4 separate regions of the Homo sapiens genome follow, and all the other regions are reported to be linked to region 1. The links are microRNA targets in miRTarBase. Many come from high-throughput screens and were not tested one by one. Region 1 holds a microRNA gene; each other region holds the end of a gene's coding sequence.
What was found. The annotated mature microRNA hsa-miR-449a reads UGGCAGUGUAUUGUUAGCUGGU and lies in region 1 at 4,972-4,993, shown strand. An mRNA with a match to its seed (bases 2 to 7 or 8) in the 3' UTR can be bound and repressed. Matches are read on the target gene's strand: a 7mer-m8 pairs with bases 2 to 8, a 7mer-A1 pairs with bases 2 to 7 and ends in A, and an 8mer does both.

Region 1 (7,120 bases):
TCACAAATCTTAACATTTTATATAGCTATAGTACAATAATCATAACTAGGAAATCAGCATTACTACTACTCTATTAACTAATCTGCAGATATGGATCAATTCAAATTTCTACAGTTATCTAACCAATATCTTCTTTTTTGTGGTCCAGGATTCAATCCAGGACCTCGCAATGCATTTGGTTGGCATGTCTTGTTTCTTTTAATCTGTGACAGTTTCTTACTCTTTCTTTATTGATGACTATGATACTTTTGAAAAGTACTGGCCAATTTTGTGGAAAGTCTTTTAATTTGGGTTTGTCTAGTATTTTCTCACTATTAAGGTTATGCATTTTGTGGGGCAAAAATATCACAGAAGTGATGTGTCCTTCTCATGAGGCACAGTATGTCAACATGTCTCACTAATGGTGATGTTAACTTTGATCACTTGGTTAAGGTGGTCTCTGCCAGTTTTGGCCAGTGAAAAGTTGTGATTTTATTTTTTGTGTTTAATTATAGGGGGAAGTATTCTCATCATATGCAAGGTAATTTTAGTATTCTTGACAGTTATTACTGTAATATTTGCCAAGTGGCGAGTTTCTGTTTCCATCATTCTGAAGTTAAGTTTTAATCTGAATATTCAACTGCATAATTACTTCCTAAAGATATTTGACTAATACTTTCTCTACTTCACACTAGGGGAAAAAAAGACATTTGGAGGCTGTGTATATGTATGCTGTGGAATTAATGGCTATAATGGAATTTATAAATGTATTTTTACAGATAATTGCATTCTAAATGAATGATTCACTATTCTTAGTACTTGTAAGAAATTGGATTCTAAAAATCCCAATTTACATGGATTTATGAGCTTATTAGTTGAATTGCTTTTATTCTGTGTTTATACAAAATGGTTAAATGTAAACTATATTTAAAAATAGAACAAAGATAATATGTCCTTCATATTATTTCCAATATACTTTGAGTTTTAGTTGGCATTTGCAAAACTGATCATTTAAATTAACAATGCATCTGACTCTCATCCAATAATAGTTTACTTTTATTTAGTCTTAATGTTTGCTGAAAGATTTACTGGAATTTGGAATGAGTACTCCACTGCAAGGAAAATAGACTTCTTGTGGGTGAAACTTAGAGATCTTTTAATCCACTAGTTATTTGACTATCAAACATTTTGATATATGTCATTTGAAGATTAAGTTACCCTATGCAGCATTATTATTGTACATAGAAAACTGGTCTAAGATTGGGTCTTAGTTCTAATGCCATTTTTTCTTGCTTTCAGTATGAAGGAAAGCAGGGGAGTGAGTTTTAGGTTTTTTTTTTTTTTTTTTTTTGGATCACTGACCCTTTTGAGTATCTGCTATCTATGAACTGTTTCCCCAGAAAAACACACAAACTCACATTGCCTTAGAGCAAAATACAATCCAATGTCAAAAATGGTTGGGGGGTTAGCAAGGGAGGGACAAACAGGCTGCCAGGCTGTCAGAGGCTTCCCAGATGCAGTGTCCCCTCCTGCCATATGGCACAACTCGGCTCTCTTGGCAGCTCAGATGGGCAGCTAAGGCTGCACAGCCCATCTGGTTCCCTGTCATTTCCCGCCAGACCTCTTCCTCAACCCTCAATATCTTCCTCTCCCCCTTTATCACGGAGTCCCCAGTGTGCTCAGCTTTCTGGCCCCCTCTTCACGCCTTATGAGGTCCTGCCTGTCACTGGTTCTTTCACTACCTCTTCACCTCTCTCACCTACCCCCTGCTAAGGAACAGGGCTCAGAAGCCCGAGTGAGAGGACCTGACTACTCCCAATGTATAGAGCAGGGAATAATTTATTGCATAAATATGTCAACGCTCTCCCTTTTGATCGGCATAGAAATCTTGCCACGTTTTCTTGCCTTCTGAAAACGAAGAGCTGACGAACACGCCTCACATCTATAGCTGACACAGCGATTACCAACGGACAGAGGCCGGAGAGCTGTGCACGCTCGGATCCTGCAAAGGCAGGGTGTGGTTGGAGAAAGAGAAGTGGGTGCAGAGGAACAGGGATCAGGGCCGTTATAAGGAAACATTCTTGTTTCTGAAAATGGAAAGATCGTGAACTCCCAGAACCCGCTTCTTCGCCCGCCAACCCCTCCGCCTCCTGCCGCGGTGGCAGCCCCCGGCGCCAGGCCCAGCCGCAGGCCCGCCACGGCTCGCGGCAAAGCTTGGCGCCCGGGTGCGCGCCTCGGCCGGAGGCGGTGGCGGGGCGGGGCCCAGAGAGGGCCGGCAGGGGCGGGGCCGCGGCGCGCGCCGGGGAATCCCACCCGGGCTCTGACGACACCGCGGCGCCGGCCAATAAGAAGCCGGCGAGGGGGATTCCCGCGCCGACTGCCGCCCCGCCGGCTTTTTAAATGGTACCCTGGGGAACACCTTGCAGCGGCGGTGGGAGGAGTGGGGGACCTGGAGGGAGGTGGTGAAATAGAATGGTCCTGGGGGACGGGACTCCAGGGGTTTGACGATTAGGCGTCAAGACTGACTTAGACCTGGGAAGAAAACCAGAGGCAGTCGAGCAGAGAGGCCAAACGCCAGGCAGGGCGAAGTCAGCCGGAGATGGAGTGGAAACTGGAGCGCACCGCGCCTCGGAGGGTCCGCACGGAAGAGGAGATGCTGTGGGTGAGTAACACCCTTTTCTGCATTCTCCCTAACTCTCTAATGCGGGGCCGAAGGCCCCGTTCATAATATCTGTTTAGGACCAAGAGGTGGTACGAAACTCTAAGCCCTGGTCGTAAATTTGAGTGATGTAATTTAGTTATATTCTGAAGGTGCCTAGTTGCCAAAAAAAAAAAAAAAAAAAAAAAAAAGTGTAATCTGACAAGCACAAGATCTAGAAAAATTCCACACCTGAAATTATGATTTTCCTAAATAGTTTCTCCCTCAATATGTTATCTGTGTTTTCAAAGGAAAGTATCATGCGTGTGCTCTCCAAAGACTTGAAGCAGAAGAGAAGTCAAGATTCCGCCAACGTGAGTCCAGGGCTTGTTCTTGTTCTCTGTTTTAATTCTGATCTTGAACAAACGAATTCTTGGTAAATAATGTATTTGTAGGAAGTTTGAGCTGGTCTGAAAATATGAGAATTTTAGTATCTTATTACATACTAAAAAAAATTTCTTTATGAAACTGAAGATCCCAGACAAATAATGCAATCGTTTGCATCTGAATCGTACTTTCTAGTTTCTGCCTCCACAGCAAAGGATAAAGCTGGGATGTGTCAGGTAGGCAGTGTATTGCTAGCGGCTGTTAATGATTTTAACAGTTGCTAGTTGCACTCCTCTCTGTTGCATTCAGAAGCACGCCCCCCAAAGAAATGGAAATGGTGCCATCTTGTGGACAATGTGGAGAAGTGGCATAAACCATGGTTCTTAACGTGAGCAATTTAAAGTTGATCCAATGTAGTACCTGTTCTCCTTGAAAGACCAAACCCAAAGGTCTTTAGTGTCTCCTGTAATCAGTGTAAAAGGAAACAAATTTAAATGGTTTTATAAACGTGTTTCATAAAGAGCCTTCATCTGCTTTAAATCTCTGTCACCATTTACCATGCTTCTCTCTAGGCTCAATAGTTCATCTTCCTTTGACCTGTACGCAGAGATTCTAGTTCCAAATCCACCACCATTTTAATAGATTTTTCTAGATCTTATATAAATTTTGCAACTAGGCACTGTGGCTCATGCCTGTAATCCCGGCACTTTGGGATGCTGAGGCAGGAGGATCACTTGAGGCCAAGACTTCAAGACCAGCCTGGACAACACAGGGAGACCTTGTCTTTATAAAAAAACTGCAAAAATTAGCTGGGCATGATGACATGTGCCTGTAGTCCCAGCTACTTGGGAGCCTGAGGCAGGAGGATTGCTTGAGCCCAGGCGTTCAAGGCTGCAGTGAGCTATGATTGCACAACTGCACTCCAGCCTGGAGGACAGAGCCAGACCCTGCCTCTTAAAAAAAAAAATTCAGTATTCAAGTGGTAACATCCTATATTGAATACATAATTGCATTTTCAGAACTCGATTACTAATGTCATTTCTAGTAGGAGAAAACTAATTGCATTTAAGCCCTTACATTTCTTAAATACTTTAATGTTGATTTTTTCCCCCAAACACTGCTGCAGTTTTGTGTCGTGCACAGCTTATGTATTATCACGACTCCTAGATATTTTACTGTCTAATACAGACAAGTAGTCTTTGGATCAGTAAACAGAAGTGATTTGAAAAGCTATAGTTAAGTAACTTTTTATTTATTTTTTTGAGACAGAGTCTCACTTTGTTGCCCAGGTTGGAGTGCAGTGGTGCAATCTCGGCTCACTGCAAACTCCAGCTCCCGGGTTCAAGTGATTCTCATGTCTCAGCCTCCTGAGTAGCTGGGATTACAGGCAGCACCACCACGCTGGGCTAATTTTTGTATTTTTAATAGAGACGGGGTTTCACCATGTTGGCCAGGCTGGTCTTGAACTTGTGACCTTAGGGGATCAGCCAACCTTGGCCTCCCAAAGTGCTGGCATTACAGGCATAAGCCACTGCGCCCAGCCTACAGTTAAGTAACTTTTAAAATTCATTTGTACTGTAGAACATATTTTTATCCAAGCATTTAATTTGGAAAACCTAAATGTAAGTATTCTGAAAGTTTTAAAGTTTTTGTTTAACTTTTATGTTTTTGACTAGATTCAAGCAAATATTGATTTTATTTCTTATAGTCTTGAAGTAATACATTTTGTGTATAAGTTTTCTTTAATGTGACTATTAAGATTAGAGTTCTGCCACTATGTTTCATGTTACAAATTTAGCCTCAGTGACTGCCTGGGCCACGAGAATCGGCAGTGACCTGAATCAGGTAGGCAGTGTATTGTTAGCTGGCTGCTTGGGTCAAGTCAGCAGCCACAACTACCCTGCCACTTGCTTCTGGATAAATTCTTCTTGTCAATGAAGTGCTCTGGATACCTGTGTGTGATGAGCTGGCAGTGTATTGTTAGCTGGTTGAATATGTGAATGGCATCGGCTAACATGCAACTGCTGTCTTATTGCATATACAATGAACATCAGAGTGTAACTGAATCTGTAATTAGTGTGTGTTTATGTGTACTTTCTGCTATGAAGCAAGCCACTATTTACCATAATATATTATTGCCATTAGCTTATAATACAGTAATACTTACAATGCACAGTTTTATAATGGTAAGGAAAGTATTACAATTACTTAAATTTTTTCCTTTTAAGAAAAATTTACTTATGCCTGCTTTTCCATAACTAAAAATTTTTAAGAAATATTTTTGGAGTCTTTGGAGTCTTTCGGAGTAGACAGTGTTTAAGTATTTATGAAATTACATGTTTTTAACTATAAGGTTTAGAATGTAATAACAATGTGGAATGGACCTACAATGTGTCCCCAGATTTTCAGTGAAGTCTTTAGGATTCTTTCTGCATTATTAGTTTCTTTCTTTTTTTTTTTTGAGACGGAGTCTCGCTTTGTCGCCCAGGCTGGAGTACAGTGGCGCGATCTCGGCTCACTGCAAGCTCCGCCTCCCGGGTTCACGCCATTCTCCTGCCTCAGCCTCTGGAGTAGCTGGGACTACAGGCGCCTGCTACCATGCCCGGCTAATTTTTTTGTATTTTTAGTAGAGACGGGGTTTCACCGTGTTAGCTGGGATGGTCTCGATCTCCTGACCTCGTGATCCACCCGCCTCGGCCTCCCAAAGTGCTGGGATTACAGGCGTGAGCCACTGCGCCCGGCCTCTGCATCATTAGTTTCTAAATACAGCATTAGAATTGGTTTCTATAGCCATGACTGTGTGTGTACCAACTGAAGGGAAAGTTGAGGTAATTTTCCAGATGAGTCAGTCAACTAAAACATTTTTCACTTGAAATATCAAGAATATTGGGGATTTTTTTTGGGTGGGGGATGGTTTACATTTTTTTGGAAGATCTACCTCAATCCTTTCACTTCATTTTCTGTAAAATCACAGGTTCATGAAATATTTGGAAGACAGCATGAGATCTAACAACTTGTGAAGTGGGAAGAACTGACCATACAATATGACCTTAAATATATTCTCATTACCTTGGAGGCATTTTGACCCACGAAGTAGCATAGATATGTGCTGGCTTCCAGACATGCAGTATTCTTGTGCGGACATTTGCAGCCAGTCAGTGGAACTGACTTTGGTGGTGCCATCAGTTAGTTAAGCCATAGATGAGATATAAGAAATATTTCGCATTCTCTACTGTACTGGATTATAAGTTATTGGTAAAATAATTTTTATGCTTTCCTTATTTAAACATATTTCTAGAACATGGGTTAAATAGATATCTATAATTTGATTCTTACGCATTTTACTACTTTCAAATCACATCCTCTTTTTGATGTTGCCCAGTGTTATTCACTTTCAGGAGATTTATGTTTAAGTATATCTTCCATGTAAATATTATTTTCATCTTGTCTTTTTTTAAGGTTAAATTTCAACATGTTATTTTCTATAAAGAATCACTGACCTAGTGATAAAAATAAAACCTACTAAATTTAGAAGCTTTGGCTTTTGTGTGTTAGTTTTTTTAAATTAAAGAGCAAGATATAAAATGCCAACTTTATTTTATTTTAGATCCAGGGGGTACATGTGCAGGTTTGTTACATAAATATAATAGGCGATGCTGGGGTTTGGGCTTCTAGTGAACCTATCACCCAAATAGTGAACATTGTACCCAATAGATAGTTTTTCAGTCCTTGTATTCCTTCCTTCTACCCCTTCTGGAGTCCCCAGTGTCTACTGTTTCCATCTTCATGTCCATGTGTACCCATTGTTTAGCTCCCACTTAGAAGTGAGGAACATGCCGTAATTGATTTTCTGTTTCTGAAAATGCCAACTTAAATTTTTTTAAGTTTTCTTTTTTAGAACTTTTGATTCTGTAGGGAAACCAACTTTATATTCAATAAACAGAAGACATTTAAAGTTGTGGTTTAGTCTCATATTATCGAGATGATGAGAAAAGAGGGAAGGAATGGAATGAAATAAAAATATGTTAAAGAAATAAAAAATATGTTAAAGAGATGAATGGGTTAGGAGGAAAGTGAAGATACAAATTAAAAGAGAAAATGTTTCCATAGGTGGGA
Region 2 (7,120 bases), not on the chromosome of region 1:
GGCGACGCACACCTGTAGTCCCAGCTACTCAGGAGGCTGAGGCAGGAGAATTGCTTGAACCCAGGAGGTGGAGGTTGCAGTGAGCCAAGATTTTGCCACTGCACTCCAGCCTGGGCAACAGAGTAAGACTGTCTCAAAAAGAAAAAAAAAGGTGGGGGAGGGGGGAGGGATAGCATTAGGAGATATACCTAATGTAAATGACGAGTTAATGGGTGCAGCACACCAACATGGCACATGTATACATATGTAACAAACCTGCACGTTGTGCACATGTACCCTAGAACTTAAAGTATAATAAAAATATATATATATATAGAAAGAAAAAAAAAACTCACTTCTTTTCATGACCTAGTTCAAGCTACAGCTCCCAAACTATAGCAATTATTCAAAAGTTATTTAGAAACTAAGTACTGTGACTATGACATCTTTTCTGTTATTGTCTTGAATTTAAACTCCTAGTAGGGAACCCTCATATATTGCTGGTGGGAATTTAAAATAGTGCAGCCACTTTGGAAACAGATTGGCAGTTTCTTTAAAAACTAAACATAAACTTACCATTTTTACCACAGATTCCTAGGTACCTATCCAAAAGAAATAGAAACTTACGTTCACACAGACTTGCATGCTAATGTTCAGAGCAGCATTATTCATAGTAGCCAAAAAAATGGAACTTAAATGTGTCATCATGTGATGAATGTATAGATAAAATGTGGAATATCTGGCCAGACTCATGCCTGTAATCTCAGCACTTTGGGAGGCCGAGGCAGGCGGATCACCTGAGGTCAGGAGTTCAAGACCAGCCTGGCCAACATGGCAAAACCCGCCTGGCCAAGATGGCAAAACCCTGTCTCTACTAAAAACACAAAAATTAGCTGGGCGTGGTGGCACACACCTGCAATCCCAGCCATTCGGGAGGTTGATGCAGGAGAATCACTTGAACCCGGGAGGCAGAGATTGCAGAGAGCAGAGATCACGCCACTGCACTCCAGCCTGGGTGACAAAGCAAGACTGCGTCTCAAAAAAAAAAAAAATGTGGAATATCCAAACAATGGAATACTACTTAGCAATAAAAAGGAACAAACTAACGTATGTTATGAACCTTTAAAACATTATGCTAAGCGAAAAGACATAAGAGATCATATACTGTAGGAGTCTATTTCTATGAAATATCCAGAAAAGGCAAATTTATAGAGATGAAAATTAGATTAGTGTCGCCTAGGGCTGGCAGTAGGAGCAGGGATATTTTGGGGAGATTAAAAAAAAGTTCTAAAACTGATTTATGGTGATGCTTCCACCACATGGTAAATTAAATCACTGAATCATACACTTGATATGGGTCAATTTTACATGTGAATGTATTTCAATAAAGCTGTTAAAAATAGATCATAGTAGGCACTCAAATATTAGTTGAATATTTAACCTCTTACCTGTTTAATCTCTTTTCTCACCACCTCCTCCCCTGCAACTAGAACTAAACATCTTGAGGGTGAGGACCAAGTCTATTTATTTTCATGCTTATTTTTATGACAAACCACACTTAGCCCAAAGTTAAACACACACTTTGTGCTCTTAACTATTTGCGGATTTGATGTTTGTCTTGTCAGGCTATGAAGGGATGCCATGCAAGAGCATCCAGGAAGAAATGGTCTGTTGCAATGTCGAGGCAAAATAACTGGGTTCTGAACAGCAGCGCTTTCATTTCATAACTATGAACTCACAGCAAGTTAATTGCCCTCTCTAAGCCAAGTCTAAAATAGGGAAAATAGTAGTAGCTACCTCACATAGTTGTCTTATATAAGGACAAAATGAGATAATTAAACAAAATGTTTAGCCCAGCCCATGGAACACATAGAGCTCGCTGAATGTTGGCTTAAAATGTAACACAAATCCAACACAAATGCACACATACCAGAGAACTCTGTCAAACAGGAGAGTGGTCCTGGGGCACCTTCTCTCCCTCCCAAGCCAATTGGTGTTCATGTGTATATGGAAGTATTACAACTATATATTTAACAAATTGAACTAAACATACCCCCAAACTTCAGTATTTTGTCTATCCATTCCTGACTCTCATCCTACAAGATAGGATTTCACTTCCGACCCCCTTGTGGTTTAGCAGGGCCACGTGTCTACCTTTAAACAATGAATTGAAGCCGGGTGTAGTGGCTCACACCTGTAATCCCAACACACTGGGGGGCCAAAGTGGGACGATCACTTGAGCCCAGGAGTTTGAGACCAGCCTGGGCAACATAGTGAAACCCTGTCTCTATAAAAAATTTTAAATATTAGCCAGGCATGGTAGCCTGCACCTGTAGTCCCAGCTATTGATACTAGGCAGGCTGAAGAGGGAGGATCGCTTGAGCCCAGGAGGTGAAGGTTGCAGTGAGCCCAGATTGCACTAATGCACTCCAGCCCTGGTGACAGAGCCAGACTATCTCCAAAAAAAAAAAAAAAAAAAAAAACAATAATTGTCAGAGTGACCAGATCATGTATTTGTGCAAGACACTCCACAGCTCCCTCCCTCTCCCACTAAAACTAGCAATGGTCCAGTTAGTGGCTGCTCTGTCACCCTACATAAAGACAACGTGGAACAGATCCCCAGCTAAGCTGCAATGGAGAGGGAATGTGAGTGAGAAACCTTGTTCTTTGCCTATGAGCTCTGGTGGTGTTCCCACAGGATAACCTAGCGTAACCTGACAGATTAGTCATGGAGCTCCCAGGCTGTAGATTATTTTAAATCCCTCACCCCAAAACTTAAGACCCTTTATTCCCTGGCTTCTGAAACAAGCCACTCTTCCCATTCTGTTAGCCTCTCTGACCATTTCTCCACTTCCTCATGGACTCCATTTCCTCTGCCTACCTTGTTAAGCCATGCTGTTAACCAAGAATTTGTCCCCAGCTTGTGACTCTTCTCATTCTACACGTTCTCCAGGGAGATCTTACCCACTTTTGATTTATCCACCTGCCGCTCCAGTGTCATAAATCCAACACATCCAAAAGCAAATGCATCAGCTGCCCAGCCCCCTCCAGACATGCGATCTTCCTACACTCCTCACCTCAGTGAATGGCACCAAACCTGAGCCAGAAACCTGGCAGCGATGCTAGATTCCTCCCCGTCCCGTCCCATCTCGTCCTACTACCCGCACCCAGCCCACTCAACCAACCCACCAGTCCTGGCAATTTTACCGCCTTTAAATGTTTGTTATTGCTGTTGTTGTTGTCCAGGGGAAGGGACATTGTTTATTTCTGCTTGTTTGATGCTTATTACAGTAGATACTTAAAAAAAAAAAAAAATTATTTCAGGCTCAGGGAAAGTCTTATTTTGGTGTCAGCCCTGACTGTGATGCTCTATCTGAAAAGGAGGACAAACAGTTTAATCCAGACCAAGAAACAAGCAAACTTTAATTTCCGAGTACACAATTATGAAACTATGCCAGTAGCGACCTGCATGTTTGTCTCATCTCTTTAGCCACTTAAGTTCTCAAAACACTGCCAAAGCTTTCCTTCTCTATTAAACTCCCTTAAGCATTACTCATACTATTATTCAAGTTTAAGATGTGGCAAATCTCCCCAAGTGTATATGGCTGGTTCTCTTCTTATAAATGAATCCATAAGACAGTGTCCCCTAATTCATCTCTATTTTCTCTAACCTGCTTGATTTTCTAAAATTGGAAAAAAGTAATTCCGGTATACTAAAACCAGAGCCCAGGTTTCTCAACATCTTCAGTTAAATGACTTTTAATTCCCCAATCAAGGTATAACACACAAATGTTATCTGCGCTTTACAGTATAGAACTCTGAGTGGCTGGTGTCTTTTGGTTAGTGTAACCATTACACAGCAGTATCTGCTTGTCACCCCGGTCTTCTTTAGCCTCAAAAAATATTCAGAATTTGTTATGCACATGGGAGATTTCTTACAGCAGCACACTCACTTACAAAAAGACCAAAAAAATTTTATTGCTTTACAACAAGCCAGCAACAAACACAACTGAATAGTTATAAACATGACACTTCTAAATCCTCAAATGGAATTCCAAGACCAGAGTGTGCTTCTCCACTTTAATAGCATTTGTTAAAACTGAAATCCACAACTTCTGGCAAGTACTTCAATATTCTCAAGCAGAATCAATACTTAAAGAGGTTAAAAGAAAAAACTATTATCAAACGTATTGTCTGTGGGATGATCTAATTTAAAAGCCTTTCATGCTTGATCCTGGCAGTGCTATTACTGCACATTTTAAGTGACCATCATGGGCACTTTTAAGAACCTAACTTCACAAAAAGAGCTGTCACAAGAAAATTGTTCTAAAATCCCAATGCACAGTAACTCATGCCTCATTTCAACTGCTTTCCTCATGATGAAAAAATGTAGTCAGCCTTTAACTTGGCCTGATAAAAGCTGTGAAAGGTATGCCAAATGGCCCCTTGTACAAACAGGAAGCCCAAATTGTTGATCAGGCAAGAAAAGGTGACACTTTTAGATACTTCATATTATTCTGGAAAGCACTTTCCTTTCAGTGGGTGCAAAATAACTACGGATTAAGTCACCATTTTAATCATCTCAATTCAATAGCAAGAGTTTCCTGGCACATACTCTTAGTACTACCTGAAAATTGGGGCGTGTGGGGAAGACCACCAACAGTATTTACATGACTTGCCCCAAACTGTACATTTAAAACATGACTGTTGGGATAGTCACCAACAACCTGAAATTTCTTACTCTAAAACACATTACCAAATCCCACTGATTTATTTTGTGTGTGCTTTCGTGGTTTTTGTTTTTATATAGAGATGGAGTCTCACTTTGTTGCCCAGGCTGGTCTCGAACTCCTGAGCTCAAGCAGTCCCCCTGCCTCGGCCTCCCAGTGTGCTGGGATTACAGGTGTGAGCCACCACGCCCGGCCTGACTTATTTATAATTCACTATTTTATCTTTCTTCCAGACAAAGCAAAGCATTTTTCTCTAACAACATAATAGTCAGGATTTTGCTTATTAACTTACGTGGGTGGCTTTATACTCCCAGAACAAATGATCTAGCTGACTACTAGGAAAAAGGTTTCATAGTTTAGGAATATATCACATCACGTGTTAGTTCCAAATGTACATGAAGACAATTTTTAATTGCTGCAATAGCAGAATATTAAGGCAACATCAGAAAGCAGAGGTGTTTTAAAACACTAAGCCCTACTCCCTGCCTGGTGGAAAACAAAATGATGTTACTAAATCCCTTAATACAAAAACTTTCCAAAATAATCTGTTGAGCTTGACTTCGCAGTTTAATCTTTTACAGTTTGATGGCAGTGAGAGAGAACCTGCAGCTATAATTCCCTTGGCAAAAGAATTCAACATCTGATTTACTCACAATGCTTAAAATAAGGAAGGGAAAATATAAAATAAGTTTTCCTTGCTTGGCAACCATCTTTTTAATTATCTATTTTTATACTGTATCCAGGCTATGCCTGGGTGTGGATGGCTAACTCGCATATAGAAAATATCAAGCATCACATCTGGAAGAATCACAAACGAGACAATGAACTTCTCAATCAGTACATCAACAGTCAAGGTAAGCAAGAAAAGGACTTTACCAAGAAACTAACATTTACACTTTCTGACGGAACTGAAATACACTGAATTACAGGCATATTCACTGAAACAACAAAAAAAATTCTGTCCATGTAAAGGCTATATTTTTTACCCCCAAAAAAGTGTTTCAATTCTGATACTCACACCACAACTGGTTAAGAAAATAAAGCGCAGTGTTTAGCAACTGAGCATCCTAACTACCGTAAGAGGCACTCTGTGCTCACCCCTTCCTGGCAACCGCTGAGGTCAGCAAGGCCAGGAGCAAGGAGAGCCTCCTATTTTTCAACACAAGCTGCTGCCGTCTCCTTATTAAAGCCCCGGATGGAGAGATCATAGACCACTTCCTCTACTTTCTTCACGTCATATTTCAATCCGTCGTAGCGCTTCCTCAGGGAGTCATTTTTCAGGTTGAGAAGGCGAAAACCGGAATCCAGCTCATTGATGAAGGTGGAGATGTGGAGGGGTCGGGAGTAGTCTCCAGCAGTCACGCTGTTGACAGACAGCCTCGACTGTACCAGGAAAGAGAAAACAGGGGCTTGTTACAACATGGCTCCTTCTCAGCGCATCTTCCTCTGAATCACAACCAGAAGAACCGCAAGCCTAGACAGCCACGCTGATCTTCTATCTCAGGGTACACACAAGTACAGACAAGACAGGAGCTTCTCTGAAAAGAATCCCACTGAAAATGAGACCAGTTCTGCCAAGTAAAATTTAACATTACTAACATCTAAAATTTCTCTAATTTCTTAAACTGGCTATTGCATAATAAAGTGTTACATTACACAAGCATCTTTACAGCTCATCTGCTATCATATCGAAGAAAGAAACGACAAAATAATCACAGCAGCTCCACTACCTCTTCCAACCTTGGCCAAATGATCACATTTCTAGAGCCCACCTACTAAGCTGCAACTCCAGTCACCTAGAATCAAGTAAGGCAGACTTGGGATAAGAATCTAAAATTATGTTAGTGTAACCCTGTCTTGAAGGAGAACTAACATTGATTTCAAGACCCAACCCAAGACTCCCCTTCTCGGTGTCAGTATACAACCCCCTACTGCTCCATTTGACTGGCTTTAAAAAATATATTAAAATAATAAAAAAGATTCCCCTTTCTGTAAAATCCTCTCCACTTTTCCAGGCTTACCCCTTTAGTGCACTGTCAACATACGGGTTTTTTGTTTGTTTGTTTGTTTTTAATATAGAGAAGGGGTCTTGCTTTGTTGCTTAGGCTGGTGTGGAACTCCTGGCCTCAAGGGATCCTCCCACCTTGGTCTCCAAAACTGCCAGCATTACAAGCGTAAGCGACTGTGCCCGGCCCCAACATGTATGGTCCTAAAGACACCTTACACTTAACTAATACTAACAAGATGCTTCCTGTTTACTGGTCAGGTGTCTCCAACAAGCCAGACAAGTGGTACAGCCTACAAGTGGACCCCATCATCCATTCTCACCATCTTCCTCAGGTTTTCAATGCACACATACCCACTCCAATAGACTCCATTTCTGCCTCCCTGCAGGCAAGGCACCAGAATGT
Region 3 (7,120 bases), not on the chromosome of region 1:
CAACTTCTAGTATTTTAAGAAATAAATGTCTGTTGTTCATAAGCCACCAAGTCTATGGTACTTTGTTACAGATGCCTGAATGGACTAAGACAGGAGCCCACAAAATGTTTTTTAGGGGCCCACAAAGTGTTTTAATTTTTTTAAAATCAGGGGTAAAAAAATGAACTTCTAGGTGGGAGAAAATGTTTTAATAAAAATAATATATTTGTCTCTATTACCAATGTAGTCATAATATTTCCATTTTTTTTTTAAATGGAAGAAGGGGCCTATGAAGGCAAAAGTACCTAAGGCCCATAGGAGTGAGAATGCAGCCCGAGTCCATGGTATGGATTCTGTTCCACATTCAAGCAACTTGCCAGAGCCCCTGCCCCATGTTGCAGATGTGCCAGCCAGTGTTGTTTCAGCCAAGATGGCAGACCCTGAGATTGCAAAAGAGCACAGCAGCATGGCCTGCTGTCCCCAGACAATAATTCTGCACTACTTATGACAGCTCTCCATGGCCATCATCGTACTGTGTTCCAGGAGTGATGGATGGCGGCTCTCAACCATCTTTTCTCTTGCACCCATCCAAGGCATAGCACACATGTACCAGTAAGAAGAGGGGCTCCCCAAGGCCCAAATTCTGAAAATATTGGTGTGTATGTGTGTGCTGTTTTAGTATGTAGTTTGAAAATGTTCCCAGGCAATTCGGGTATTGACCCTGATGCTTGATATGTCCCCCTATCAGGGTCCCCCTCACTGGCCTGGGGGAAACTGGGATCCAGCAACACACACTGCACATATGATAATGGGTCCTTTTATAGAACGGCACCAAATTCTGCACCATCGCTCCTTCTGCCCACTCCACTGAAATCTCCTGATCTGAGGTATTTCATCATGGTCCTAGTTTCCACCAATGAAGCGGGAAGCCCACGTGGCCTGCCCGCAGCCTGCCGAGTCCCGGGGGCAGCTGGCTGCTCCTTTTGTCTGGCTGGTGTGACTGGCTGGCTCCCTGGGGCGCTGCAGGGATGAGGAGTCTGAAGGACCCACTCACTTTCTGGGCTCACCCTCGCCTTGGCTCTTCTGGTGATCAGCCTTTGGCGCATCTATAAAATGGGAATCGAAAACACTCACCTGCCTACTTCACGGGACCAGCTGAGACCGTGTAAGGAAGCCGCTGCGGAACTGCAGGAATGAGGGAGATCAGTAAGGCAGGACCACTTCTTTCCCATTTCAACTGCTCAACCCTTTATTTTTCTGCTATCATCATCTTTGCCTTGGTCCTTAAAAGGCCCTTATAAGTTACGCTGTGAGCATCCCAGTACAAATGTAAACAAACACTCTAAAATGACAAGAGAATGCCTACAAGCAGAAAGATGGTGGTGAAATCAGGATTGAAACATGTATTATTTCGATGCTGTGTCTCGTAGTATTCAGTAACTTAGGGCCTTCTGGAAGCAGGACTAGCCCATCCAGGAAAATCTCCTTTCTCTTTTGCAGGGTGTGATAAGGCTCTCTGTTCCTCATCGTCGCCCTACCTTTGATCTTGACCTCCAATGTCTGCTTCTACTGCTTTGCATTTTTATAAAAATAAATTTGGGCCTGGCACGGTGGCTCACGCCTGTAATCCCAACACCCTGGGAGGCCGAGGTGGGTGGATCACTTGAGGTCAGGAGTTTGAGACTAGCCTGGCCAACATGGCGAAAACTTGTCTCTACTAAAAATACAAAAATTAGGACTGGAAGCGGTGGTTCATGCCTGTAATCCCAGCACTTTCGGAGGCCAAGGCAGGCAGATTGCCTGAGCTCAGGAGTTCAAGACCGGCCTGGGCAACATGGTGAAACCCCACCTCTACTAAAATACAAAAAAAATTAGCCAGGCGTGGTGGTGTGTGCCTGTAATCCCAGCTACTTGGGAGGCTGAGGCAGGAAAATTGCTTGAACCTGGGAAGCAGAGGTTGCAATGAGCTGAGATCGTGCCATTGCACTCCAGGCTGAGTGACAGAGCGAGAGTCCATCATCATCTCAAAAAAAAAAAAAAAAAAAAAAAAAAAAAAATTGGCCCGCCACATACCTCAGTTGTTTAATTAAAATGTTCTCTCTCTCTACCCAGTCTGTGGACTTCTGGCTGTCCCTGTCAGTGTCATGGTGGGTGTGTGACTCAGTGAAGGGCAAGGCCCGAATCTCAACATGCCTTCACCCGGCTCCTGGGAGGCCCTGGCCGCCATTGTAGCCAGGCCAGGGAAGGAGGAAGGGAGTTGGTGCTCTGGTGCGACCCCTGCAAGGAGCTGAAGGACCAGCAAGTTCTAGCCAGAAAGAATCCCCAAGGAAAGGGGAGCGTTACCAGGAAACAGTGTCCCCAGTGCCTTGCCATAGACAAGATTGTGCAAAACAAGAGACATGTCATCACAGGAAAAGAAATCACTGGGCCCTTTGGGGACTCGTTGATGAAAGACTCATTTGACCAACTGGGACTGGACAGCCACTCGCTGTTGACTTTTGAAAGCCACTGGGCCCAAATCTCAGCCCTCTTGAAATGACTCATTGCCAAATGCCACAGTGACATTTCCAGGGAAGGGGTAGGTTTGGGGGGGGTTGGTTAAACCAAACCTTTAGTGCAAAAGCCATTTTGTCCAGGACTGGCTTGATCCTGGACAGGTCCAGGTCACTTTGGATAGGTCATAGTTAGTTCCCAGTTTTGGGGGATGTAAGTAAGTCTCCTTCACCCATGGTCTCCTGGACCAACTTCTTGCAAGAATCTTCCCCTCAGCTCATCTCCTGGGCCAGCTCCTGGAGGCCCTGCTAGTATAGCTGAGGCACATGAGCTTGGGGAAAAGGTTTCTTTTGCTGAACACACAAAGAGCACAGACTCTGGGCATTTTGTTTTTGGTGGTGGTGTTTATTTTTTTAAACCCACTTGTAGTTTGGGTTCAGCTGGAAAGCAGGACATACCGACGGAGGGAGGGTGGTCGCACTAGCGGGGTTCCGCGGCAGCTTTGGCGGGAAGCCCCAGGCCCTTGCTCTGGGGAGGTAGGTCCTGTCGTCCACTCCCAGCCGGCTCAGGGAGGCGGCCAGCCCTTCCGTGTGAGTGTTCCGCGCAGAGGAAAGTTGTCTTTCTTTCTTCTGATCTGTGTCCTCAAAGGCCCAGCCAATGGTTTCCCAACACAGTGCCCTGCAGCTGAGGGACACGACTCCCCAGGCAGGCCTGAGAGTCTGTCTGTCTGACAAGGAACACGGGCCGGTGTCTGATGCCAGAAAACAGACTGGGACTTGGCTTCTTGGAGGCCCGCGTCTGGGGCACCCCATGGGGCTGCTCTGGTGGCGGCCTGGCTGTCTGGGCCCCCGCCCCTACAGCTGCCCCGGCCTGATCTGTGGTACCCTTCCCACACCCCCCACCCTCATCCCTCGGAGAAAATAATAGAATAAAATAAAAATCAATCAGAATAAATACCGACTCGGCCAACATTTACATTTACATGGATGGACAGGACGATCCCCAAACAGTGAAGGTTTACAGACTGGTCAAGGAAGGACGAACAGAGAGAATGGGGTCTGAGGGTGCACATCCCGTGGAGGGTGGCGGGGCTCCTGGCCTCGTCTGGGTGAGGTTGGGGGCCTCGCTGGGGCTGCGGTCCCAGAGCTTCGGCAAAGCCACCAGGCCTTGGGGAGCAGGGCTGTGGCAAGCAGGCCGCCTCGGAGAAAAACAATGACTAACTCATCCTGACAGGCAGTGGGGAGACTGAGACAGGATCAACATCAGATGGCTGGACCGCCTCTTCCATGCGCCAAGAACCGCGGGCGAGGGGAAAGCAATGCAAGCCTTAGAAATGCAATATCCAGCTCTGCCTCTCATCACATACATTCAGAGGTCAACTCGGACGCGGCCTTCCTCATGCCACAGAGAGGGGATGGACTTGGGGAGGGGGCCAGGGTCTGTGGGGCATCCACTTCTGTCCTGCAGTTCCTGTCTGAGCAGTCTCCCTCGGGAAGCTGCCTCGGGGTCTCAAATTTTAGGCTTGACTGTTGTTTCTTTAAAAAAAAAATAGTCTTAACGTTTTCCTTCCATATCTGAAAAAGGAGCAGCAACCTGCATTTAGAAAAACAGCTTAAAGTGTTGTTGTTCAGATTGGCTAGGAAGCGCTTTCAAGCAGTGGAATAAACTAGGCAAACAGTATGTCTGGAGCCACCGTGACACGACATGTAATTAAAAATATATTTATATATGTATACATATTTATATTTCACTTCTTCTTCACACTCTGGTCCTAACAGCCAATGGGGAGCTGCCCCTGTGGCCAGGCCATCAAGGAGCCCGTTCGGAGGAAGGAGAATCAGGCCCCAAGGTGCCCACAACACAGCCCCCTCCACACAGTGTTTCGGAGCGTCCTGCGTGAAGCTTGCTCTGAGCTCACCGTTGGGTCTGGGAGACCCCACTCCCCTGCCTCCTCCCTGACCTGAGCTCCCACTCCCAGGTCTCTCCTCTCTTCGGGGGCCTTGCCTCCTCCTAGCGGACAAACCCCACATGCTTCAGGGGGGCAGGGGCCACTGAAGCACAGGTGGAGGCTGCCTGGCCACGATGGCAAGCTCGCCCTGGGGCCTGCCCTGAGCAGCCCCGCATCAGCCCGGCTCCTCCCTCGAGGCCTCCTACCCGCGGGGCATCTGTGTTCCCAGGCTGGGCTGGGGAGGAAGGGCAGTGAGGAGGAGCTTGAGAAAGTCTGGGAAGAAACCGTGGAGGGAGGAAGAAGGCAGGGTTCAGGGCCAGGGACCAGAGGTGGCGTGCGCTTCTTGGGAGAGACCACTGACCTGTTTCAGGTAAACTTGTGCCCCCTACACCTTGTCGCCAACAGGCTCTTTTTAGAGACAGGCAAAGGCTCCACACCTGGGACCAGAGGGCAGGTTGCAGCTGCAGGGAAAGCTGGAGAGAACTGGGGAAGCCTCTCCCCACTCGCCACTCTCAGACTCAGAATCAATCAATCACGAGAACCTTCCCCGCCCATCACCTCCCGGCCAGTCCAGTGTGGACCAAGAGGGGCCTCCAAAGTGACCCAGGGCCTGCCCGGCCTCAATAAAAGAGCAAATAAGGAAGCGGCTAGGCTCTGACATCATTTCCGGGGGGGCTCATCAAAGTGTGTGCTCCAGCCCCCAGAGATGGAGCTATGTGGACACCTGTTCCACCCCACACCTTCCTCTCCAGCCAACAACAGGGCCTGCTCCCCAGGACCAGGGCCTGCCAAGAAACCCCGTCTTGTTTCCCGGCTGGGAAGCTTCATCTGGCGACCCCGCTGGTCACCTGACTGTCCCTTCCATGACCCAGTGAATTCACCCCTTTCCCAAGAGCTCACGGAGGGCTGGGCTTCTACGTCCGAGCTGGGGCAGTGACACAGCGCATTAGCTAAAATCGAGTCCTGGGGAGCCCCCACTCCCATCCTTTTCCCCAGTAAGACCTGCGTGTGGAGCGCAAGACACCATCTAGAATTTTGGTTTTAATTTGCCAGTCTCGTTCTGTGCCCTGTTTGCCACAAGGCCCCTGGGGCCAGGACCAGGTTTAACTTGGTCCCAGTGGTGACAGTATCAGCCCTTTGAGAAAACAGAGGCGCTGGAAGCCAGTGGCGAGGAACACAGGATTCCAGCGGGGACCCCCCGCCGGGGCAGAAGTTTCCAATTACCCTAATTGGCTACTGGCAAGCTGTCTGTGGCTCGAATCCTTCTTCTAGAGGGGAGCTGGGTTTGATCTCCCACTAATCCGGGGGTCCTCAACAGTGCTGACTGTGTGATCACATCACGGGCATTTTCATTGGCCAAAGAGACTTCAAAGCAACCGACTTTTGAAAAATAAAACACAATAAACAAAAGAGTGCAAGTGGAACTGCAAACTCCATCTCCCCCGCTGCGCCTGACCCCCTAGGCCTGAGGCTGTGGGGGCTGCAGTGAGGAGGACTTGGAGGTGGGAGGTGGAGCGTCAGCTCTGCCATGGCTGACAAAGGCCGTCAATTACGGGCGGCTGGTGGGGACCGTGCCTGCCTTTGTCCTCCCGGACATCTGCTACACGTCGCCTGCTGCCAGTTGGCGACTGCGGCTGACAGCATGCGGGAACAATGCGAGCCCGTCTCCGACCCACTTTTTCAGCCTTCCGAGGTCCTTTCTGACCCAAGCGGTGCCCCGGCGTGCGAGGCTGCCAAGGTCTCCGAGGAGTCACAGCGATGAGATCCCTCACACAAAGCTCCGTGGGGGATGGGTCTGATGGGGAGGGGAGAGGCGGGAGTGAGGAAGGGGAGGGCCAGGGCCACCAGGAAAAAGAAACATGCTTCCCTTATTGGTGTGAGCTTGCATGCTCGGGCTGGGGGGCTTGTGCGGGGGCACTCCTCTCAGGGATTTGCTCCCTTCCCCGTCTGGCTCCAGACTGGCCACCGACTCTGCCTGCCCTCCTCCCCATTTCTTTCTCCCGCCAGGGCCACCCCTGTCCTCCCGCCTGTCCATCTGGCCCTGTGCACCAGGGCCCCAGCTGCCCGTGGGCCGCCTGCCAGGCCCCCTGGCTGTCAGGCTGTCAGTTTCTGGATGGTTCTGTTGTAGTACTGCGTGATGGGGGGCGTCAGAGGGTTCCAGCTGTTAGCGTGGAGCTCGATGACCTCTAGGAGCAGCGACCGGGTCAGCATGGACTCCGAGGGGCACAGCATCTTGTCCCGTGCGCTGGCCAGGAGCTCTGTCATCATCTCAGGCAGCTGTTCCTCCAGCAGCCGGCCTGTACTCTGCAGCTGCAGACAGAGATGTGGGGTTAGGATGGCCTCGGGTCCCACAGTGGCCCACTGGCCACCCTGATTAGGTGGGCAGGGATAGGAAATAGCTGGGTTGTCTTAAGGACACACAGGCCCAGACCCCTGTGCCACAGCTGGAATGAGGACAGGGAGAGTGGAAGGTGGAGTAGCCAAGAGTGAGAGCTCACATTTACCAACCAATCTGCCAGCAGGATCCAGAGGGATCCGAATATTGCCTACTGCCCAGGGCTGAAAGAGCTGTCACCAGGAACATGCCTCTTGTCCCTTTTACCCAAGAGCCTCCCTCTTCCAGGAAGCCTTCCCTGACTACATCCGCACCCTCAAATGGCTCCATGATCTGTGCCCCTTGGTGATCAGGGGGCCCTGTGG
Region 4 (7,120 bases), not on the chromosome of region 1:
TGGGTCATGAGGATGATAAATCAGACGTCTTGGGCATTAGATTGAAGCATCTCAAAACACCTTTTTATCCCCTTCTATATAGGCACCTGTGTCTGCTAAAAAAGAAAAGAAAGTTTCCTGCATGTTCATTCCTGATGGGCGGGTGTCTGTCTCTGCTCGAATTGACAGAAAAGGATTCTGTGAAGGTAAAATCCTAGTGCTTATGGCAGTTAAAACAGGAACTGGGTTTAGGGGCAAGGGCATGGGACTGGGGTAGAGGAAGTGTCATTAACTATACTGAGTATCAGTAAGTTTTCATCTTTCTCATTGCTAGGTGATGAGATTTCCATCCATGCTGACTTTGAGAATACATGTTCCCGAATTGTGGTCCCCAAAGCTGCCATTGTGGCCCGCCACACTTACCTTGCCAATGGCCAGACCAAGGTGCTGACTCAGAAGTTGTCATCAGTCAGAGGCAATCATATTATCTCAGGGACATGCGCATCATGGCGTGGCAAGAGCCTTCGGGTTCAGAAGATCAGGCCTTCTATCCTGGGCTGCAACATCCTTCGAGTTGAATATTCCTTACTGGTGGGTAGATGCAGGGTGGCTTCAGCAGAGAAATTGTTCATCTGTTACCACAGCTGTCTTGTTTCTCCAGACCTCTGGTGTAATAAACTGCCATCTTCCTTTCTAGATCTATGTTAGCGTTCCTGGATCCAAGAAGGTCATCCTTGACCTGCCCCTGGTAATTGGCAGCAGATCAGGTCTAAGCAGCAGAACATCCAGCATGGCCAGCCGAACCAGCTCTGAGATGAGTTGGGTAGATCTGAACATCCCTGATACCCCAGAAGGTGAGCCAGACCTAATGTCTTTTCTTTGTTTCTGGTCTACCTGGGTTTGTAAAATTGTGATGGTCCAGCATTTCTTGGGCAGGATTCTTATGTGGCCATATTTTCTTTTCTAGCTCCTCCCTGCTATATGGATGTCATTCCTGAAGATCACCGATTGGAGAGCCCAACCACTCCTCTGCTAGATGACATGGATGGCTCTCAAGACAGCCCTATCTTTATGTATGCCCCTGAGTTCAAGTTCATGCCACCACCGACTTATACTGAGGTGAGGATTGTCATCTTTACTGTTAAATTTGTCCTAAGCTTTCTATAAGAAGTTGACTTAGACGGATTGCTAAACTGGTTTGTTCTTTTTGTTCTTACCTGAACTGAAATAGTCTGTTTCTTTCTTTAGGTGGATCCCTGCATCCTCAACAACAATGTGCAGTGAGCATGTGGAAGAAAAGAAGCAGCTTTACCTACTTGTTTCTTTTTGTCTCTCTTCCTGGACACTCACTTTTTCAGAGACTCAACAGTCTCTGCAATGGAGTGTGGGTCCACCTTAGCCTCTGACTTCCTAATGTAGGAGGTGGTCAGCAGGCAATCTCCTGGGCCTTAAAGGATGCGGACTCATCCTCAGCCAGCGCCCATGTTGTGATACAGGGGTGTTTGTTGGATGGGTTTAAAAATAACTAGAAAAACTCAGGCCCATCCATTTTCTCAGATCTCCTTGAAAATTGAGGCCTTTTCGATAGTTTCGGGTCAGGTAAAAATGGCCTCCTGGCGTAAGCTTTTCAAGGTTTTTTGGAGGCTTTTTGTAAATTGTGATAGGAACTTTGGACCTTGAACTTACGTATCATGTGGAGAAGAGCCAATTTAACAAACTAGGAAGATGAAAAGGGAAATTGTGGCCAAAACTTTGGGAAAAGGAGGTTCTTAAAATCAGTGTTTCCCCTTTGTGCACTTGTAGAAAAAAAAGAAAAACCTTCTAGAGCTGATTTGATGGACAATGGAGAGAGCTTTCCCTGTGATTATAAAAAAGGAAGCTAGCTGCTCTACGGTCATCTTTGCTTAGAGTATACTTTAACCTGGCTTTTAAAGCAGTAGTAACTGCCCCACCAAAGGTCTTAAAAGCCATTTTTGGAGCCTATTGCACTGTGTTCTCCTACTGCAAATATTTTCATATGGGAGGATGGTTTTCTCTTCATGTAAGTCCTTGGAATTGATTCTAAGGTGATGTTCTTAGCACTTTAATTCCTGTCAAATTTTTTGTTCTCCCCTTCTGCCATCTTAAATGTAAGCTGAAACTGGTCTACTGTGTCTCTAGGGTTAAGCCAAAAGACAAAAAAAATTTTACTACTTTTGAGATTGCCCCAATGTACAGAATTATATAATTCTAACGCTTAAATCATGTGAAAGGGTTGCTGCTGTCAGCCTTGCCCACTGTGACTTCAAACCCAAGGAGGAACTCTTGATCAAGATGCCCAACCCTGTGATCAGAACCTCCAAATACTGCCATGAGAAACTAGAGGGCAGGTCTTCATAAAAGCCCTTTGAACCCCCTTCCTGCCCTGTGTTAGGAGATAGGGATATTGGCCCCTCACTGCAGCTGCCAGCACTTGGTCAGTCACTCTCAGCCATAGCACTTTGTTCACTGTCCTGTGTCAGAGCACTGAGCTCCACCCTTTTCTGAGAGTTATTACAGCCAGAAAGTGTGGGCTGAAGATGGTTGGTTTCATGTTTTTGTATTATGTATCTTTTTGTATGGTAAAGACTATATTTTGTACTTAACCAGATATATTTTTACCCCAGATGGGGATATTCTTTGTAAAAAATGAAAATAAAGTTTTTTTAATGGAAAAAAAAATGTCTGTGAGATGGCTTTGGAAAAGTTTTTGGAAAGAAGGTGTGTCTAAAGGAGTTTTCCTCTACTTAACAATCCACACTAATGAAAACCTTGTGGAGAAAACACTCCCTATGGACCCTAAGGAATGTCGGCAGAGTGGGGGCTAGAAGGTGAAGAGGGAAACCGTTTGAGGCATGTTTCAGATTCACTGAACAACTATACTGGGATTTTCCGGTTGTCTAAACTAGTTTTCCAAATCCATAGGTAATCATTACTAAATTCCTTCAGTTTTGGAGTTCATGGGTTCTTGAAATACAGGGAGATGATGTTTATGAGGGCATTTGAAAGAAAAGAGTGGCGGTTCCTTTTTTTGAGACAGTCTCACTCACCCAGGCTGGAGTGTAGTATGATCTTAGCTCACTGCAGCCTTGATTTCCTGGGCTCAAGTGATCTTCCCATCTCCGCCTCCCACATAGCTGGGCTACAGGCATACACAACTACGTTCAGTTAATTGTGTGTGCGTGTGTGTGTGTGTATGTGTTTGTTTTTTCTACGCTCAGCTAATTTTTTGATTATTTGTAGAGTTCGGGTTTTGCCATGTTGTCCAGGTTGGCCTCAAACTTCTGGGCTCAAGTGATCTGCTGGCCCTGGCCTCCCAAAGAGTTGGGAATACAGGCGTGAGACACCACACTCAGCTGAAGATCCCCTTTTTACAATATGGTTTTATCATAGGGTTTCTTCCCAATGTAAACTTGATTTATATACTAACAAGGATAACTTCAGGACTTAAGAGGTTATAGAGTTATGAGTATTAAATTCTTTGGAGGCAGCTAACCATTTTTTATTTTCACAGTTCCTAACCAAGCACATAACTCAGTAAATGTTTGCTAACTATTCAACTTCACCCTCATCCCTTAGATGATTTGATGGTTCCTATTCCTTGTAGGGTAATAGTAGTAGAGTAATACCACAATCCCATGTTTAATTGGTGTGATTTTCTTTCTTTCTTTCTTTCTTTCTTTTTTTTGAGATAGAGTCTTGCTCTGTCTCCCAGGCTAGAGTGCAGTGGCCCAATCTTGGCTTAATACAATGTCCGCCTCCCAGGTTCAAGCGATTCTGCTACCTCAGACTCTTGAGTAGTTGGGATTACAGGCATGAGCCACCACACTCAGCTAATTTTTGTATTTTTAGTAGAGACGGGGTTTCACCATGTTGGCCAGGCTGGTCTCGAACTCCTGACTTCCCGTGATTCACCCGCCTCAGCCTCCTAAAGTGCTGGGATTACAGGTGTGAGCCATGGCGCCCAGCAGTGATTTTCATTCCTAAAGAACCGACAGGTGGAGAAACCCTGGGATGGCCAATTTAAATATTTGCACAGATCTGGTCCTGGTCCTTATTTGGGAATTGATTTTTCTGAGGACTTCCACAAACTAATTCCAAATAACAGGCTCCTGGAAATTCTACATGAAATCAGTGTGGGGTGTTGTAGCTCTAGCTACTCACAAGGCTGAGGCAAGAGGATCATTCAAGCCCAGAAGTTCTAGGTTACAGTGAGCTATGATTGCACCACTTGCACTCCAGCCTGGGGGACAGATTTTGTCTCAAAAATAAATAAATAATAAGCAAACTAAAATCAATGTGAATTTAACAGAAAGTGAGATTTAAAAGATCCTTTTCCATTTCAATCCTCATTTTTCGTTTATCTTTCATTTTCCATAGCACTCTCCTCCCTCTCTTTGTCTCTCTTTCATTACCAAAGTGTCAGTCTCTATTTCTCCCTATTGCCAGGGTGACTTTCACCTGAACTCTCCGCCCCTTTCTCACCTGTGCAAGAATTTAGTGGCTCCTCTCCTTCAAATCTGTGACCAGGAAATTAGGTCAAAGTTGATGGAAAAGTTTTTTCTGTAGCTTGTTTTCCAGGGCCTAGAGGGGTGAAGCAATGATAAGAGCAGGCCAGAGAGCAGGACAAAGGAATGGAGAGACCATGGAGTACATGAGCCTGGTTGTGTGCACAGTTGGGCTACCAGTACCCAATATGAGAAGAGGGATGGCTTCGAAAGGATAGATAACTTTATACCCAAGGCCTCTTAGAGATCTGATCCTAGGGCCAGGCGCGGTGGCTTACGCCTGTAATTGCAGCTACTCGGGAGGCTGAGGAAGGAGAATCACTTGAACCCAGGAGGTGGAGGTTGCAGTGAGCCCAGACTGCACCACTGCACTCCAGCCTGGGCGACAGAGCAAGACTGTCTCCAAAAAAAAAAAGAGATCTGATCCTGGAAGGGCCAGAACATGGGCATCTCCTCCGGATACCCTTAATATCCTTTATCCAGCTGTCCAAATAGAACTTTCTATGATGATGGAAATTTTCAATACAGTAGCCACTAGCCCTGAAATGTGGCTACTATGACTGATAAACTGATTTTTTTTCTTATCTTTTTTTTTTTTTTTTTAGATAGGGTCTCATTCTGTCTCCCAGGCTGGAGTGCAGTGGCACAATCTTGGCTCACTGCAGTTTTGACCTCCCAAGCTCAGGTGATTCTCCCACCTCAGCCTCCCAAGTAGCTAGAACTACAGGCACATGCCACCATGCCCAGCTAATTTTTTCTATTTTTTGTAGAGACAGGGTTTCACCATGTTGCCCAGGCTGGTCTTGAACTCCTAGGCTCAAGCAATCTGCCCACTTCAGCCTCCCAAAGTGCTGTGCACACATTTTTTTTTTTTTTTTAAACAGGGTCTTGCTCTGTCTCCCAGGCTGGAGTGCAGTGGCATGATCTCTGCTCACTGCAGCCTCCACCTCTCAGGGTCAAGTGATTTCCCATCTCAGCCCCCTAGTAGCTGGAACTACAGGTGCATGGCACCAAGCCCGACTAATTTTTGTATTTTTCATAGAGATGAAGTTTTGCCATGTTGCCCAGGCTGGTCTCAAAACTCCTGGGCTCAAGCGATCCTCCCACCTCAGCCTCCCAAAGTGCTAGGATTACAGGTGTGAGCCACTGTGCCCAGCCTGTAACTGAATTTTTAATTTTGTTTAATTATTTATTTATTATTATTATTATTTTTTGAGATGGAGTTTCTCTCTTGTTGCCCAGGCTGGAGTGCAATGGCGTGATCTCGGCTCACTGCAACCTCCACCTCCTGGGTTCAGCGATTCTCCTGCCTCAGCCTCCCAAGTAGCTGGGATTACAGGCATGCGTTACCACACCTGGCTAATTTTGTATTTTTAGTAGAGATGGGGTTTCTCCATGTTGGTCAGGCTGGTCTTGAACTCCCGACCTCAGGTGATCTGCCCATCTCAGCCTCCCAAAGTGCTGGGATTACTGTGCCCGGCCCAATTTTGTTCAATTCAATTAAACTTTAGCTTTCTGTGACTAGTGACTGTCACATATGTGACTAGTGACTAGTGACTAGTGACTGCCATATTGAATACCACATCAAAATCTAAGGGAGTAAGCAGCTAGAGCTGTTCCCCCAGAGGAAACCTATCCTTCTCTTACAGCACAAAAACTCCACTCTACTTCTTTTTGCCTTGTGTATACAACTTCTACCTCACCCGAGGACATTTTCCGCGTACAGGCTTGCTTCAGTACACTTCCTTGGGGAGTGGCTTAGCTATTTCCCCACTTAAGTGGGGGAATATTCTGGGTCTTCTTTGCCTATCCTCTTCTCACGTGCCTTTTAATTTTTAAGTAGCTATGACCTACATGTACAATGATTAGAGGAGATGTGGTTCTGAGTATCATTTATTCAGTAGGTTTAATCTGGTATAGGGAGATCTGAGAGAACTAAAAAAGAAAACTACCTAAAGAGAGAAAAGGGCAAGAAAATAAAATTAACAAGAAAAAGGGGCCGGGTGCTGTGGCTCATGCCTGTAATCTCAGCATTTTGGGAGGCCAAGGTGGGTGGATCATTTGAGGTCAGGAGTTTGAGACCAGCCTGGCCAACATGGTGAAACCCCGCCTCTACTAAAAATATAAAAAATTAGCCAGGCGTGGCAGGCACCTGTAGTCCCAGCTACTTGGGAGGCTGAGGCAGGAGAATCACTTGAACCTGGGAGGCAGACATTGCAGTGAGCCAAGATCACGCCACTGTACTCCAGCCTGGGAGACAGAGAGAGACTCCTTCTCAAAACAAAACAAAACAAAAAACAGGTACTTCAACAACCAGAGTCATTGGCTGCCTTGATTGATACCTCTGAACAGACTGGAAACACAAGGATCTAACTTGGGTTGAGGCACTGGGAAGGAAAAATGTGGAGGGGAGGATCTGACAAAGCACATGTTCAGCAAAAAACAATCACACAAGAGCTGAAGGGCATGAAGTGGAGTCAAGGAGTGACCTTTGCACAATTCTTTTTTCTCTTTTTGAGAGAGGGTCTCACTATGTTGCCCAGGTTGGAGTGGAGTGGCTATTCACAGGCACAATCATAGCAAACTCTGACCTTGAACTCATAGCCTCAAGGGAT

Region 2: miRTarBase lists TSN as a target of hsa-miR-449a. Seed matches in the 3' UTR shown: 8mer at 5,296-5,303 and 8mer at 4,215-4,222.
Region 3: miRTarBase lists CTIF as a target of hsa-miR-449a. Seed matches in the 3' UTR shown: 7mer-m8 at 5,350-5,356, 7mer-m8 at 4,668-4,674 and 7mer-m8 at 3,705-3,711.
Region 4: the mRNA of TXNIP is a reported target of hsa-miR-449a. Seed matches in the 3' UTR shown: 7mer-A1 at 2,324-2,330.

The regions. Positions count from the first base shown.
Region 1 is chr5:55,168,459-55,175,578 of GRCh38, reverse strand. MIR449A (microRNA 449a) reads left to right here and starts at 4,957; the gene lies at 4,957-5,047. It overlaps CDC20B (cell division cycle 20B), which reads left to right and starts at 2,402. Exons shown (of 12, transcript NM_001170402.1): 1 at 2,402-2,641; 2 at 2,929-2,991. The coding sequence starts at 2,579. MIR449B (microRNA 449b) reads left to right here and starts at 4,837; the gene lies at 4,837-4,933. MIR449C (microRNA 449c) reads left to right here and starts at 3,226; the gene lies at 3,226-3,317. RefSeq lists silencers at 1,967-2,296, 2,384-2,678.
Region 2 is chr2:121,764,106-121,771,225 of GRCh38, reverse strand. It overlaps TSN (translin), which reads right to left. Exons shown (of 6, transcript NM_004622.3): 6 at 3,373-6,092. The coding sequence ends at 5,859. Among named protein-coding and RNA genes, the nearest start is that of TSN, 12 kb to the right of the region's middle.
Region 3 is chr18:48,858,954-48,866,073 of GRCh38, reverse strand. It overlaps CTIF (cap binding complex dependent translation initiation factor), which reads right to left. Exons shown (of 12, transcript NM_014772.3): 12 at 2,857-6,730. The coding sequence ends at 6,515. Among named protein-coding and RNA genes, the nearest start is that of CTIF-AS1, 21 kb to the right of the region's middle. RefSeq lists an enhancer at 3,155-3,706.
Region 4 is chr1:145,987,994-145,995,113 of GRCh38, reverse strand. It overlaps TXNIP (thioredoxin interacting protein), which reads left to right. Exons shown (of 8, transcript NM_006472.6): 4 at 83-185; 5 at 314-570; 6 at 677-833; 7 at 947-1,098; 8 at 1,228-2,679. The coding sequence ends at 1,263. Among named protein-coding and RNA genes, the nearest start is that of TXNIP, 5.0 kb to the left of the region's middle. RefSeq lists enhancers at 456-505, 2,327-2,406.